2 separate regions of the Homo sapiens genome follow, and region 2 is linked to region 1. Evidence: fine-mapped expression QTL. A gene starts in region 1. The other region holds a variant in brackets. All regions are shown on one strand. Distances are between the middles of the regions.

The links. PIP is the estimated chance that this variant, and not a neighbour inherited with it, causes the effect.
Region 2: its variant is fine-mapped to the expression of FNDC4 in thyroid (GTEx, PIP 0.99).

Annotation. Positions count from the first base shown.
Region 1 is chr2:27,492,089-27,500,416 of GRCh38, forward strand. It overlaps FNDC4 (fibronectin type III domain containing 4), which reads right to left and starts at 3,112. Exons shown (of 7, transcript NM_022823.3): 1 at 2,790-3,112; 2 at 2,459-2,615; 3 at 2,263-2,378; 4 at 1,842-2,046; 5 at 1,301-1,390; 6 at 578-702; 7 at 1-390. The coding sequence starts at 2,591. The coding sequence ends at 355. GCKR (glucokinase regulator) reads left to right here and starts at 4,751. Exons shown (of 19, transcript NM_001486.4): 1 at 4,751-4,876; 2 at 5,156-5,311; 3 at 5,474-5,542; 4 at 6,167-6,235; 5 at 6,636-6,709; 6 at 7,054-7,120; 7 at 7,309-7,362. The coding sequence starts at 4,817.
Region 2 is chr2:27,515,996-27,524,323 of GRCh38, forward strand. It overlaps GCKR (glucokinase regulator), which reads left to right. Exons shown (of 19, transcript NM_001486.4): 17 at 2,793-2,942; 18 at 6,465-6,599; 19 at 7,274-7,689. The coding sequence ends at 7,444. Among named protein-coding and RNA genes, the nearest start is that of SPATA31H1, 17 kb to the right of the region's middle. The variant A/G (reference allele first, on the strand shown) is at 4,353.

The sequences.
Region 1 (8,328 bases):
GGCCAGAGGCAAGATGTGGGGCAGCTGGGGATGCTCAGAGTCCTGATACAGGTGAAATGGGGCCCCCATTTGGGACCTAATGGAGTAGGGTACAACTAGTGACTCTCCCCTGGACCGGGGAATGGAAGGAGATATCCCATCTGATATCCACTCCCCAGGTCCAGGGGCACAGACTCTGAACAGACCTACCTTCTGGCTCTGCTCACAGTGGAAAGAGGATGGGTACCAGGCCTGAGATTGTGGGAGTGGCATTACCCTCTGGGAGTCTCGGGCAGATCACCATCTTGGGCTCCCCCTGACCCCATCCCTATCCCCAGTTGTTAGTGCATCTCTCTTCTGGGTGTGTTTCTTCACTCAAACGTCGATGGTGTTGATAGATGGTGACTTTTTCTGTGAAAGAAAATGGCCTGAGTCTCAACTTCAGGAAGGTAATAGGTGCCACCCTTTCTCTCCAGCCTCCCCCATCCCAGATCTTCCATTCTCCATCTTTTTCTGCCCCTCTTTGACCTTCTTCCTTTCCCTGGCTGCCCCTCAGGGGCAGAATCACCCTTTCCGCCCTCACTGGCCCCCACATCACCTGTCTTGTCCCCACTGGCCTTCCCTGAGGACTCTGTTCCGGCCCCTTTCCCTTCTCCTTGGGATTGTTGTTGGAGTCATTGTCCTTGATGATGTCATACTGACGGCAGAACAGCCCAATTACAGCTGAAACACAATACAGTCTGAGCCTTCATCTCCACTTCCCCCCTCATAGGGAGATACCTACGTAGCTTCTAGAAAATCCATGAAGAACATCCTGAATTCCTGGTGCCCATGCAGTCCTCCTCTCTGGGCTCTCAACAGCCTCCTCTCCCTCTCTTCAAAGTTCAAATCATCCCTCCTGAACTAAGTATCTCCCCACTCCACTCTATTTCTCTTACTTTTTTTTTTTTTTTTTTTTTGAGACAGAGTCTCGTTCTGTTGCCCAGGCTGGAGTGCAGTGGCATGATCTCGGCTCGCTCACTGCAACTTCCACCTCCTGAGTTCAAGCAATTCTTCTGCCTCAGCCTCCTGAGTAGCTGGGGTTACAGGCGCCCTCCACCACACTCTGCTAATTTTTGTATTTTTAGTAGAGACGGGTTTCACCATGTTGGCCAGGCTGGTCTCAAACTCCTGACCTCAGGTGATCTGCCTGCCTTGGCCTCCCAAAGTGCTGGGATTACAGGCGTGAGCCACTGTATCTCTCACTTCTTTTTCTCCTGACAACCTTTGCCACCTCACACCTTTACTGAGTCCCTGGTCCCCTGTCTAGCTGCTTACTCACCAGCCCACATGAGCAACACCACCACAATGATGACCACTTCCCCAGTCTGCAGTGGCCGCTCTCCATCCAGACCTTCCACTGTGATGTCACCTGAGAAGGGAGAAGGCAGAAGGCAGACTCCAGGTTACTGGGGTCCATACTGCAGACATGCAGGATGGAGATGCTGGGGATTAGAAAGGGTGGACCCATCATAATGTTGCCCTTGGAGTGTAGGGTAGCCCCTCCCTGGGAGGAAGCCGTTGGTGGACAGGTGGTTAGCGACCAAAAAGCGGGATGGCTGCAGGTTAATTACTCACTCATGCAGGCTGCAGCTGATGTGAAGTTGGGTAACAGGAAGCTTAAAAGGCCTTCCCCCAAACAACTCAATACCAGCCTGTCTATACCCAATCCCCTTCCCACCTGCTTTTCTTTCCTTTCCTGGCAGTACAATGAATTAAATCATCCTATTCAACTCAGCTAGTCTGTTGCTTGTCTTGGGGAAGTAAGTAAGAGGCTGCAAGCCAGGTAAGCAGCCAGAGAATCCAATAGCACAGATCCTCACCTGGGCTTGAACTGTTTGAAGGTAGCCGGTCAGAACCCTTGAGAGTTCGGAAGTGCACCCGGGGCCCTGGGGGACTCTCTCCCCGAAGGCCGATGCTCCTGACCTGCACTGTGTAGTCACTGTCTTCAGCCAGGCCCCAGAGGGCACAGGCCCGGGTGGTGGTGTTCACCTCCCGAATCACACGCTGCCCGGGGCCATTCTGCCGCTGCAGGGAGATGAGGGGAGAGGAGGACAGCCTCACCCCAGTGCCAGGCCACAAGGCTCAACCAGAGACTCTTCAACATCCAAGCACTCCGGGGGAGTAGCGTGAAAAGGGCAGCCTGAGCCAGGATACGCCAGCTTCCAGATCCCCCCCACTTAAGTGAAGAAATGTGCCGAAATCCAAGGACACAGGTTGGGGGAGCAGAAGGGTGATTCATACTTGCTGGGAAATGGAGTAGCCAATGACGATGTTGCCTTCTGGGACGTCCCAGGACACAGTGGCCGAGTTGGCTCTGAGGTGAGTGACCGTCACATTCACAGGAGAGGGAGGCCGGTCTGCGGGAGCCAGGGTGTTTAACAGGTTTCACCCATTGACTAGCTGTGGTTGACCCTCAGCCCCGTTCCCCTTTACTTACCTGCTCGCACGAAGCCCAGGTCACAGCTGACCAGCAGGAGGACCGTGGGGCTTAGATATGGGGAAAGGGGCACCAGCGAAGCCATGTCCCCACGGAGTCCGCTGGGGGGGGAACTGTGGCATCCGCTTGGCATCCGCTTGACATCCAGGCGGGGCTCCTGGAGATGGCAGGAGTTGTGGGGGGTCAAGGACTGCCCAGAACGCACGGAGGTCGGGGGGCAGCAGCTCTCCTGGGCTCCCCACAGCTCACAACAGCCCTATTTTCTCTACGCCCTCCCGCCCCCGCATTGCCCGGGCGGCCCCAGAGTGCGGTCCGCCCTGCCCACACCCACCTCCGCCGGTCCTCGCGGTTGGTCAGGCCTCGGGGGGCTGCTCGGTGCCCAGAGGGCGGCCCATCGCCCGACTCGGTGGCGCTGCCCCTACCCCATCCCGGCGCGGGCCCGGCGACGCGGGCAGCGCGGGGCCGAGCTGCGGGCGGAGCGGGCGCGGGTCTGCGGAGCCCCCAGGGCTCGAGCGGGCCACGGAGTCTGTCCGGGAGCAGGGGGCGTTGCCCGGACGCTGGCCTGGGTCCCCGGTGCGGGAGGCAGTGCGGCGGCCTCCGCCCGCCCCTGCAGCGGGATGTGACCGTCCCGGAGAGCCAGCCGCCGCCTTCTGCAGCGCTGGCCCCGCTCGCTCCGCCGCAGCCCGGCCGGGACGCGCGGGCCCGCCCCGCCCAGCCGGGGTTCTCGCCGCCGTCATTCCCCTCCCGCCCCCTCACTCCCGTCCTCTCGGGGCTCCTCCCACGACCCTCCCAATGGCGCCTCCGGAGCCCCCATCCCTTATCCCTTCTCTCTCCCAGCTGAAGCGGACGAGTCGGCGGGGGCGTGGGGGGTGAGACGCGGGTGCTAGGGTCTCCGGCACCTGGGAGATCCCCTTCCTCCCCGCGTGGAAGAGCCAAGTTGGGAAGAGGAATTCCACCTCCAGTGCCCGAGGGGCTAACAGGAGAGGGGAGAGAGTGAGGGAGATAATAATTGCTTTAACAATCCCTTACTTGTAGACTGCGTCAGCTTTTAAGTCTCTTTTCCATTCATAATCTCATTTAATTCCGTTCGCTTTCTCATTCATTCTTTCATTTATTCACCAAATATTTATTGAGCATCTCCTATGTGTCTGGCATTATATTAAAACCTGGAGATACAGTGATTGTTAAGAGTGTTGGGCTTCTCGGGAGAATCAAAGCGCAAAGACCTATGGCTTTTTTAAAAAAATTATTATTCCTTTCTTTTCTTTTTTTGTTTTTCTAAAGCTCTACCACTTACGGTGTGGTTTTGGAGAAACTGGTTTATCTGTGCTTCAGGTTTCCCACCTGTAAAGCAAAGCGTGTGAAATCTCACAGGGTTGTTGTGAGGCTCAAATGAGACGGGAAAGATCTTTATAAATCTCACAACACTATGTGACTGGATGATGGAGATTAATTTGCACCAATCTGTTAGTTACTTCTTTGTTCAATAACATGTAAGCCCTTACATTATATCATGCTTTGGTTGAGCTTGAAATCTGAATTGAGAACCTGGGTGTGAGTCCCAATTTGTCCAGCTGTGTGATCTTAAGCAACCAACTAAACTACTCTGAGCCTGTTTCATCATCTGAAAAATGAGGGTGTCAATATTGACCAACATCTTAGTGTTGGTGTATCCAATGAGATACTGTCTGTGAAAAGTGTGTTGTTCAGTGTAAATAAATGTTGGCTAACATTGTATTTAGGGCAGATTCTTTGGTTTCTAATTCTCAATGCAGTATTTCTGTTTCTGTGGGATTTTTCCCGCTGTAATATCCAGTACAGTGTGTGCACACTTGGGGCTCAGAAGCTTCTACTGCCTTCCTTTCTGAGAGGAGAGGATAAAATGGGACCAGTGGGACTGACTGTGTGTGCTGAGCATGTGATCAAGCCATGGGCCAGGTCCTCTGACTTGTGCTGACTTGGTGACCCTGATCTCTGGCCTCGGAGGACACTTGCCCAGGGATTCTCACTGCCGTGGGTGTTGTCCTGCACTCCCAGGCTCCAGGTCCTCTGTAGAAGAGGGCATTGTCCCGGTAGGGCAAGAGTCCCGAGCCTCAGGTCTTCCTCTTCAGGGGCCAAAGCAGAGGCTGGCGAGTCAGGGTGCTTGCAAAGAGGAAGCCCAGGAGTTTCCCTGGGGTTACCAGAGGGCTGGGGGCCTAGTGACCAGGAAAGGGTGGTGCTCTGAGAGCCCAGGGTGCTTGGGTTAATCATCACTGGGGCTCAGATAAGGCCCTGCCAACTGGAAGCAGAGTCATTGTGACCAGAGGGGTTTGTGTGGCTGAAGAGGCAGGAGGAACAGTGTATCCACAGCGTGGGACCATGCCAGGCACAAAACGGTTTCAACATGTCATTGAGACCCCGGAGCCTGGCAAGTGGGAGGTGAGACCCCTTCTTCATGTTGGCTTTCTGTGCTGATTCCTAGAATTATTTTTCATCCAGTCTTCCCTCCCCGCTGGTTTCTGCTCACCTCTTCTTCCTTCCTGATGTTCTTTCCCTAATATGCCCAGAGCACCAAGTGCAGGCTGAGTTTCTGGTGTGGTATGTGTGTGCGTGTGTGTAAGTCCAAACTCTGTGCCTGCTGCCACTCCCACCTCCAGCTCAGCAGGCATGAATGAGGCTTTGGCTTCCTGCTCCATCCTTGTCCCCTCTTCCTTCTAGTTGTCTGGGTACGAGGCAGCTGTGCCAATCACGGAGAAGTCAAACCCACTGACCCAGGATCTAGACAAAGCAGATGCTGAGAACATTGTTCGACTGCTAGGGCAATGTGATGCTGAGATCTTCCAGGAGGAGGGGCAAGCCCTGTCCACATACCAGGTAACCAAGACCCAAGACCTGGACCCTGGAAATAAACATGCCAACCCCAACCCCACCTCTGCTCTCCCTCACCATGGCTCCTAATATCGGAAACCCTGAGACCCCCTCCCCCATTCATCGTCCTCCTTTTCTTGGCTTCTCATTCCTGCATATTCCCTACAGAGACTCTACAGCGAATCCATTCTGACCACCATGGTACAGGTGGCTGGGAAAGTTCAGGAAGTGCTGAAGGTACTAACCTTCCTTCTGTTCCCTGCCTAAACTTTTCTGTTTCCCTCTTTCTCTTTTTACTGTCTCTATTTCTCACTTTGATAGATCTCATTCTCCTTTCTCCCTTTTGGAGATCCTCCCTTTTGGATCCTTATTTTCATCTTATTAATAAATAATAATGATAACTTCTCTGCTTAATACTTTATAATTGACAATCTACTTTCACACCTATTACCCTCACAAAAGCCTGTGAAGTTGATATGACTTCTGTTTGTTTTCCTCAGATGAAAAAACAAAGATTTAGAAAGGATAATCACTGTAGCTTGCTCAAATACACTGAGCTAATAATTGCTGGATAATGCTGCTTTTATTATTTACTTTTATTTAGATGACAAAGCTGCTTTCAGTTCTTTCTGGGAGAAGTAAGGATTTGAACAAGTAGTGGAGCAAGACATGGGAGTCAAACTGGTTTCTCTAATCCAATGTTCTTTTTGCTACACTACATTGCATGTATTTGTTCAATTTTGTGATGAGAGGAGGGATAAGGAGTCTTTCCAATTCCTCTTGCATTACTGACAAAGAAAAGAATATTCTTCTCCCAACCTGAGCCAGGCCCTGGTAATATATGCCTCTTTCCTTCTTCAGGAGCCAGATGGGGGGCTGGTTGTGCTGAGTGGAGGGGGCACCTCTGGCCGGATGGCATTCCTCATGTCGGTGAGCACCCTGGTCTCCAGTTTTCTTCCCCCTCCACTTCTGGAGGTGACCCTCAGGACCATAAAGATCATCATAACTAAGCTCCCAGGTGGCCCCCTCACTAGACCTGGACTCCAAGCCTGGCTCTTTCTCTCTTCCAAAAGCTAGATGTCACCATGAAGTCCCATTTCTTCTGAGCCCATCTGAGTCCCGCCAGTATGTTGCCAATGTCTCTACATCCCATGCACCACCGACTAATCATCTCCAAGTAGCAGCTTTAAGTGCGAGATTCCATGTAGGACTGGGTTAAGCACTGGTCTAAGAGAATCATTATATAGTCTCTGCCCTCTAGGAGTTGAAAATCCAAGATAATTGTTTCTTCTCTGTCATTACCTCTTTACATCCTCTCCCTGCTTGACAGGTGTCCTTTAATCAGCTGATGAAAGGTCTGGGACAGAAACCTCTTTACACCTACCTCATTGCAGGTGGTGACAGGTAAGCCAAGTTAGCCTATGAATATTTTGTTTGACCTAAATAGTATTTCTTAGAAATTGAGTTGGAATACCTTTAGACAGAGATTGTGTCTGGCTTGTCTTAGTCCTCACCATTCCTTATTCCCTCACACTTGGCCCACTTCACATACTTATGTCGCCTGACTGGCTGTTGTAGGTATTTGAGTTTTTCAACTCTATGGAGTGTCTATCATGCACCAACAAACTGTGGGTGCTCATTCAATGATAGTTTTCCCTTTATGCGCATCTCTTAATGTAGCCTGCCCTAATACGCCATAGGCTTCTGCTTTCCAGCCACTGCCACTGACCTTGAGTCTGTCCTCTTAGGTCTGTGGTGGCCTCTAGGGAGGGGACAGAAGATAGTGCCTTGCACGGGATTGAGGAACTGAAGAAGGTCTGTGCTTTTCACTGACATTGACCAGAGACCTCTATCTGTTCCTTCTCATGGGGACATAAAAGCCCCAGCATTCAGCCAAAGCCTATTTCCTCCCTCCCCTGTTCCTGGCCCTGATATCCTCACACAGTAGATTTGTGCCCTGGAATCCTCCCAGTTACACTACCTTGTCCATCCTCCTCTCCTAGGTGGCTGCCGGGAAGAAGAGAGTGATTGTCATTGGCATTTCTGTGGGACTCTCTGTGAGTAAAAAGATGGGTTGAGTGGATCAATTTTAGAGAGAGGAAGTGAGTGGGAATGGAATAGCATGGAAGATAGATCAATGAGATCGGTGCTAGAAGGCAGGAAGTTTGCTCAAGGAATTTTGGTTTTAGTTTCACTAACTTGGATCAAGTTGTGTGAATGTGGGAAGATGGGGAAGGGATTCTATTTCAGAATAACTGTGTATCAATCAATCAACAACCAAGATAGGTGGACTAGTCCAGGGGTAAGCAAAATATACTGGCTGGCCAATGCAGCCAGCTGCCTGTTTTTAAAGTTTTTTGTTGTTGTTGTTTGTTTGTTTTTGAGATGGAGTCTCGCTCTGTCACCCAGGCTGGAGTGCAATGGCATGATTTCGGCTCACTGTAAACTCCACCTCCCAGGTTCAAGCGATTCTCCTGCCTCAGCCTCCCGAAAAGCTGGGATCACAAGCGCCCACCACAATGCCCGGCTAATTTTTGCATTTTTAGTAGAGACAGAGTTTCACCATGTTGGCCAGGCTGGTCTCGAACTCCTGACATCAGGTGCTCCACCTGCCTCGCTCAGCCTCTCAAAGTGCTGGGATTACAGGAGTGAGCCACTGCACCTGGCCCTAAAATAAAGGTTAGTTTTTGTTTTTGTTTTGGTTGTCGTTGTTGTTTTTGAGAGTCTCCCTCTGTCTCCCAGGCTGGAGTGCAGTGGCATAATCTTGGCTAACTGCAGCCTCCTCCTCCCAGGTTCAAGCGATTCTCCTGCCTCAGCCTCCCGAGTAACTGGAATTATAGGCACATGCCACCATGCCTGGCTGATTTTGTATTTTCAGTAGAGACAGGGTTTCTACTAAAAAAGAAAACTGGGGACCAGGATGCTCACCGACATGAGGAATGCCATGTTGGCCAGGCTAGTCTTGAACTCCTGACCTCAAGTGATCTGCCCACCTTGGCCTCCCAAATTGCTGGGATTACAGG
Region 2 (8,328 bases), 24 kb after region 1:
CAAATCCCTGGCCTCAAGCAATCCTCCTGTCCCAGCCTCCCAAAGAGCTGGGGTTACTGGGGTGAGCCACCGTGCCTGGCTCCAATATAATTTTTTTAAGTTCATCTTTTCCTGAGTGATTTAGGATGCTATCTGTGTCACATACTCAATTTCTATGTGCATTGGTCTATTTATGGACTTTCTATTCTGTTCCACTGGTTTGTCTATTGATGTGCTGGTACCATATGTTTTAATTATGGAGGCGTTATGGTATGTTTGGTATCCAATAGGGTTTGTTCTTCATTCTTGTTTTTTTTTTTTTTTTTTTTTTTTTGAGATGGAGTCTCATTCTGTTGCCCAAGTTGGAGTTCAATGGTATGATCTCGGCTCACTGCAACCTCCGCCCCCCAGGTTCAAGTGATTCTCTTGCCTCAGCCTCCCAAGTAGCTGGGATTACAGGCACGCGCCACTACACCAGGCAAATTTTCTTTTGTATTTTTAGTAGAGATCAGGTTTCACCCTGTTGGCCAGGCTGGTCTCAAACTCCTGACTTCAAGTGATCCACTCACCTCAGCCTCCCAAAGTGCTGGGATTATAGGCGTGAGCCACTGTGCCCAGCCTATTCTTCTTTTTAAGGATTTTCCTGGCTATATCCAGGCCGATTTTTCCATGTGTACTTTAAAATGAATGTGTCGCACTCCAAATTTTGTAAAATTTAAAATATTTTTGTGTTAATGGTGTTAATGTTAATGGTATCAATGGTTAGTGGTATAACCTAGATCTAATTGACCTCTCTCCCAAAGTGCAGTCTGACACGCACCCTATAGCATCAGTACTGCATACTTACTGGCCAGTTTCATGCTGAAATTTCATGCTGTTCTTATATTTAGTGTCGTGGACATTCACTTATTAAAATGTTTTCAATATACCCTCTTCCAGGGTTTTGTGTGAACAGCTATTTCTAGAGTTCCAGAATAAAGAGGTAAAAGTAGCAGTAGCCTGTTTCCTCAGCCTGGCTAGGACCACGTGTATTAGTACCTTTTTTTTTTTTTTTTTTAATATGGAGTCTCATTCTGTCGCCAGGCTGGAGTGCAGTGGCGTGATCTAGGCTCACTGCAACCTCTGCCTCCTGGGTTCAAGTGATTCTCCTGCCTCAGCCTCCTAAGTAGCTCTGACTTACAGGTGCTTGCTACCATGCCTGGCTAATTTTTGTATTTTTAGTAGAGACGGGGTTTCACCATGTTAGCCAGGATGGTCTCAATCTCCTGACCTCATGATCCGCCCACCTTGGCCAGTACATTTTCATACTGCTCTAAAGAACTGCCCGAGACTGGGTGATTTATAAAGGAAAGAGGTTTAATTGACCCACAGTTCAGCATGGCTGGGGAGGCCTCAGGAAACTTACAATCATGGTGGAAGGTGAAGGGGAAGTAAGGCATCTTCTTCCCAAGGTGGCAGAAAGGAGAAGTGCCAAGTGAAGGGGGAACAGCCCCCTTATAAAACCATCAGATCTCATGAGAACTCACTATCCCAAGAACAGCATGGGGGAACGCCCCCTGCCCCCCATGATTCAATTACCTCCACCTGGTCTCTCTCTTGACACATGGGGATTATGGGGATTACAATTCAAGATGAGATTTGGGTGAGGACACAAAGCCTAACCATATCACCAGTTAATTAATCCCCTCAACACCTTTACTGGGCCCCAGTTTCCCTGCTAATGTGCCAATAGGTGTTATAAGTGCCCCAAGGTGGACAAGATATAAGGGCCAAAAACAAGGGGCAGTTTTATACTCGCGATACCACATGTTTGAACAATTTTTTAGTTTTCAACATGCCTTTACATAGGTTCTCTCATTCATCCAGGAGATATTTGTGGCAAAGTAGGAAATGCCCTCATCATTGAATCAGAAGACCGGGATTTAGGTCCTCATTCTCCATCTCGTTATCATATGAGCTTCTCCAAGTTAATTTACTTCTGACCTCTAGTTTCCTCATATGTAGAAATGAGGATAGGTAAACTTATTCTGTAGGGCTGTTAGAAAAATTAAATAGAATTCATTTTTCAACAAACATTTTTTTTTCCCCTGAGACATAGTCTCACTCTGTTGCCCAGGCTGGAGTGCAGTGGCACAATCTAGGCTCACTGCAACCTCCACCTCCCGGGTTCAAGTGATTCTTGTGCCTCAGCCCCCCGAGTAGCTGGGATTACAGGTGTATGCCACCACTCCTAGCTAATTTTTGTGTATTTAGTAGAGACAGCATTTCATCATGTTGGCTAGGCTTGTTGAGAACTCCTGACCTCAGGTGATCCCCCAACCTTGGCCTCCCAAAGTGGTGGGATTACAGGAGTGAGCCACTGTGCCCGGCCTCAACAAATGTATTGATCAGCAAATATGTGTCAGTCATGGTCTAAAAAACTGGGGCCCTGGAGCAGAATAAGTCACCATCTCTGCCCTTTCAAGAAGCCTGTGGTTTAGTGGAATGAATCCCACTCCTCCTGTCTGATACCCGGGGAGAAAAAGGAACAATTCAGCAGGATCAAAATTCTAATATGGAAGGACTCAGAGAACATGTCTGTCTACCTAGGGGTCAAAAACACAAATGGGTGAAGCTACCAGGTTTGCCTGAGACAATCCTGGTTTACATCTATTGCCCTAACATTTAAACGCTGGGCTGCTCAAACAAATCATGTTTGCATTTTGGTCCCTGGTTCTTGACAGTTGGTTTCCTGTCTGATAACAGGGCCCTGTTCACTCTGCTGCTTTTCTGTCCTCTAATTTTTGACACCCCCATGTGTCTGCCCTTTTCAGAAGTTCCAGCGTGAGCTAAGCACCAAATGGGTGCTGAATACAGTGAGTACAGGTGCTCATGTGCTTCTTGGTAAGATCCTACAAAACCACATGTTGGACCTTCGGATTAGCAACTCCAAGCTCTTCTGGCGGGCGCTGGCCATGCTGCAGGTAGGGATATGATGGGGCAGGGTTGGGTGGGACCTGGCCTCAATGCTTAGGCTGCCAGAGGAGGGCATTTTGTAGAGATATGGAAATGTGCAAGGGTACAGGCTGCCTTTTCTGTGTGCTTCTGCTCCTCCTATTAGGTGCATCTTCCCCTTAAGGAGTGTGTGTGCACACATGGGTGTGTTTGTGAAATTGTAATTATTAGGCAAGACTCTTTCAGTTACAAACGTGATGGAAAACGAGTTTATACTGGTTTAAGCTAAACAAAGAAAATGGTGGCTGATATAACTGAACAATCTTAGGGCAGCTGAATCTAATGTGTTCCAGAACTTTCCACCCTTAACTCTGTTTTCCCCTGTGTTGCTCTCATTCTTTTTTTTTTTTTGAGATGGGGTCTTGCTCTATCGCCCAGGCTGGAGTATAGCGGTGCTATTTCAGCTCAGTGCAACCTCCGCCTCTGAGGTTCCATTGATTCTCCTGCCTCAGCCTCCCGAGTAGCTGGGATTACAGGCACCCCCCACCATGCCCAGCTAATTTTATATTTTTTAGCAGAGACAGGGTTTTGCCATGTTGGCCAGGCTGGTCTCGAACTCCTGACCTCAGGTGATCCACCTGCCTCAGCCTCCTAAAGTGCTGGGATTACAGGCGTGAGTCACTGCACCCGGCCGTTGCTCTCATTCTTAGGCAAGTTTTTTCCATTAGGTGGCAAACTGGCCACCAGTAGTGCCAGCCTGACAATTTACGTAGCAACACTAGTGGGCAAAGAGCTTGCCTGTCCTGTGGTTCTTGCAAATGCCTGGTTGGGGGCTCTTGCTTGGGACACATGCATGTCCCTGAAGCAATCACTGTTCTCCAGAGCAAGGGATGCTCTGCCCAGTCTGGATCATGTGCTTTCCCTTCAGGATGGTGGTGGAAGAAGGGCTGGGAGGTGAGCCTCAATCCAACCTCATTACCTGAGCATGGGGAAGCGATAGATCCTCAGAGGAAAACCAAGGTGCTGATACCAGAAGGAGTGGATGTTGAGCAGACGGCACAACAGATGGTCATGAAAATGGGGTCGCCAGATTCGGCAAATAAAAATACAGGACGCCCAGTTAAATTTGAATTTCAGATAAATATGGAATAATTTTTCCATCAAGTATGCCCTATGCAATATTTGAGATATTTTTGATTTTTTTCATTATATATTTGGATGTCCTGTATTTTTATTCACAAAATCTGGCAACCCTATGTGAAAGGAATCAATCAATGAACATTTAGTGAGCACCCACCAGGTCCCCAAAATAAACTATGGTCCTTACTGAAGTCCAGTGGAGGTATAAAGAAGGTGGGGGTCAGAATGCATTATAGCAAAAAGAAGGCCTCATGGAAGGGGTGGTATTTTGAGCTAGGCCTGGTGGTTATGGCTTGGAT[A/G]GGTGGACAGAAGAGCATTCCTGTTAGGTCATTCACCAAGTCCCAGAAGGGGGACTGGGCATGATATGTGAGGGACACAGGTCTAACCAGAGTGGCAAGTCACTTTAGAGCGCAGTGAGGGATTGTGAAGAAGTAGGAAGGGGAGGGATGTGGGAGGTTAAAGCCAGGCAGGAATTTGGACTTTGCCAAATGCAGCTAGACCTGCGCTGTCCAAAACATTGGCCACCAGCCACATGTGGCTATTGAGCACTTGAAATGTGGCTAATGTGACTGAGGAACTGAATTTTTAATTTTATGTAAAAACCAAAGCTGTATACTTTTTAAATTAAATGTAACTTTAATATTTTGGTAGGACTACATTTCTCTTTTTAGCATTGCAAATCTAGCACCCAAATTGAGGTGGGCTGGCTGGGCACGGTGGCTCACGCCTGTAATCCCAGCATTCTGGGAGGCCGAAGCAGGCAGATCACTTGAGGTCAGGAGTTCGAGACCAGCCTGGCCAACATGGTGAAACCCCGTCTCTACTAAAAATAAAAAAAATAAAAAAATAGCCGGGCATGTTGGCACAGGCCTATAGTCCTGTCTACTAGGGAGGCTGAGGCAGGAGAATAGCTTGAATCTGGGAGGTGGAGGTTTCAGTGAGCCAAGATAGTGCCACTGCACTCCAGCCTAGGTGACAGAGTGAGACTATCTCTCAAAAAATAAAATTAAAATTAAAAAAAGCCACAAAAAAACAAATTGAGGTGTGCTCTAGTTGCAAAATACACACTGGATTTCAAAATACAAAATCCGAATATAGAAAAATATTGCAAAATATCTGACTAATAATGTTTAATATTGTTTACATTGGGTTATATATTGGGTTAAATAAAATATATTATTAAAATTGATTTCAGGCCAGGTGTGGTGGCTTACACCTGTAATCCCAGCACTTTGGGAGGCCAAAGCGGGCAGATCACAAGGTCAGGAGAAATAGGTGAAATCACATTTTTTTTTTTTTTGAGATGGAGTCTCACTCTGTCACCCAGGCTGGAGTGCAGTGGCATGATCTCGGCTCACTGCAACCTCCACCTCCTGGGTTCAAGTGATCCTCCTGCCTCAGCCTCCTGAGTAGCTGGGATTACAGGCATGCGCCACCACACCCAGCTAATTTTTTTTTTTTTTTTTGTATTTTTAGTAGAGACGGGATTTCACCATATTGGCCAGGCTGGTCTCCAACTCCTGACCTTGTGATCCACCTGCCTCAGCCTCTCAAAGTGCTGGGATTACAGGTGTGAGCTGCTGTGCCTGGCCAATTTCACCTATTTCTTTTTTTAATGCAGCTACTGAAAACTTAAACTTACATATGTGGTTTGCATTATATTTTTTTCTTTATTTTTATTTTTTTTAGAGACAGGGTCTCACGCTGTTACCCAGGCTGGAGGGCAGTGCATTGGCACCATCCGGCTCACTACAGCCTCAAACTCCTGAGCTCAGGCAATCCTCCCACCTCAGCCTCCTGAGTAGCTGGGACGATAGGCAGGTGCCACCATGCCCAGCTAATTTGTTTTATTTTTTGTAGAGATGGGGTCTTGCTGTGTTGCCTAGGCTGGTCTCGAACTCCTGGGCTCAAGTAATCCTCCTGTTTTGACCTCCCAAAGTGCTGGGATTACAGGTGTGACCCACTGTGCCCAGCCTTGCATTATATTTCTACTGGACAATGCTGAGCTAGACAGAGAGGAGGGTAGTGACAAAATGGAAGCAGTGTTTGCAGATGAACAGTCTTACATTAGTGTGCAAGATGGATTTGGTTACAGAGGAAACTAGAGAGAGGGAGTCCAGATTACCAACCTACAGGATTGGTGGGACACACATGCAAATTTGAGCAATTTGCCATTAATCCTCCAGTTTAACCCAGCCAGTCAAGCCCACCACCAACCCCTTTAACCTAGTTTTTCTTTACACCTGGGAATTACAATTTAGGATTGCCAACATGGACAAATCATCTACAGCCTCTATAGCCAGGCCTCGGGATCCCAGCCTCTCACTCTCATAGTTTATTCTTCTCCCTTGACTCCATTCTTAGTTCCTCTGGCCTTTAGCCTGACACTGATCTTACCACTTCTTCCTTAGCGGTTCTCTGGACAGTCCAAGGCTCGATGCATCGAGAGCCTCCTCCGAGCGATCCACTTTCCCCAGCCACTGTCAGATGATATTCGGGCTGCTCCCATCTCCTGCCATGTCCAGGTTGCACATGAGAAGGAACAGGTATCCTGCCCACTGCTGGTCATTCAACAAATACTTTTTGAGTACTTTCAGTGTGTCAGGAAGTTTGTTCGGCACTGGGTTTACAAAGCTCAGTGGCACTCTGCTCACAAGGACCTCCACATTCATGGGGTCTTTGGACTGGGTTTTGAAGGATGAATAGGAGTTTTCCTGGTCAAAGTGAAGGTTTCTTTCTGCTCTTAATCCACCTTGTTACCACCTTCTAATCTTAATAACATCCTATTTGCATCTAACCTAGTGGCTCCTGATTCCTGTATCAAATGCTTTAACTCCTCCAGGGTTCTGTTTTTTTTTTTTTTTTGAGAGAGAGTCTTGCTCTGTCACCCAGGCTGCTGGAGTGCAGTGGCGCGATCTCGGCTCACTGCAACCTCTGCCCCCGGGTTCAAGAGATTCTCTTGCTTCAGCCTCCCAAATAGCTGGGATTACAGGTGCCAGCCACCAATGCCTGGCTAATTTTTGTATTTTTAGTAGAGATGGGGTTTCGCCATATTGGCCAGGCTTGTCTCAAACTCCTGAACTTAAGTGATCTGCCCACCTCGGCCTCCCAAAGTGCTGGGATTACAGGCGTGAGCCACTGCGCCCGACCTTCCTCCGGGGTTCTTTCTCTGATGACCTCATTCCCTCAGGCTTCAGTGCCCACTGCCTCTTCCCCACAGGTGATACCCATCGCCTTGCTGAGCCTCCTATTCCGGTGCTCGATCACTGAGGCTCAGGCACACCTGGCTGCAGCTCCTTCTGTCTGTGAGGCTGTCAGGAGTGCTCTTGCTGGGCCAGGTCAGAAGCGCACTGCGGACCCCCTCGAGATCCTAGAGCCTGACGTTCAGTGAACCCATGTTTCTGGGTGGGTGAAAGGGGCCCAACCCTGCCCACTTCAGCCCAGCCCGCCCAAGGGGACTTGTGCCAGCAGAACATGTGGGAGGAAGAAGCCCCGTTTCCAGGGCATCCGCAGCCCAGGGTAGGGAGAAATATTCTCTCCACTTTGGGGGAGAGTTCTTGCTCTCGACCTAGTGGTTTCTACTCTCACCGACTTATTCTGATTTCAGAAATAAAATGAAATGTCTTATTTTGGAAAGTTAACCTTTCAAAGTCAGTAAATCAAACAGTAGATCAGAGGTGGGATAGGATGGGTGGCATGGGTTGGTCTTAACAGCAGATTTGTTTCTTTAATTCTGTCCCCAACTCCATTTCATTGGTCCCTAACACAAGCCTTATACTGGCATCCCTATATTTTCATTACCAACATGCAGCCACGTGTGCATGCGTGCACACACACTCCAATCCCACACAGACACACAATGAGAGGTGGGAACTTTTAGATAATTCCAGGGGAAGAGGGAAGAAGTTGTGTACCTAACATAGGAAACCCAGAAAAAGGGCAGTCTTAATCAGACATGACAAGATCTAGAATGACTGCTACATCCACGCATTAGACCATGAAATGAGGGTCACATCCCCTGCCCCGTGTTTGTAAGAGGAACATAAGGAACTCTGGAGGTGCTGAAAGCCCTTGGTGGTGGGACCCAACAAACACTAGAAACCCCGGGCTGTACATTTTAGACATCAGCTACCCCATGTTTTGACAAATCAAAGACACCCTTGTTCATCCTAGATTCATGCCAGCTCTTTAGGGCCTGTGATATATGGCCCTGACAGTAGAGAGCTGGTTCCTCCTTGTGCCTGAGAAATATCCAGGTAATAGATACTCAGGAAC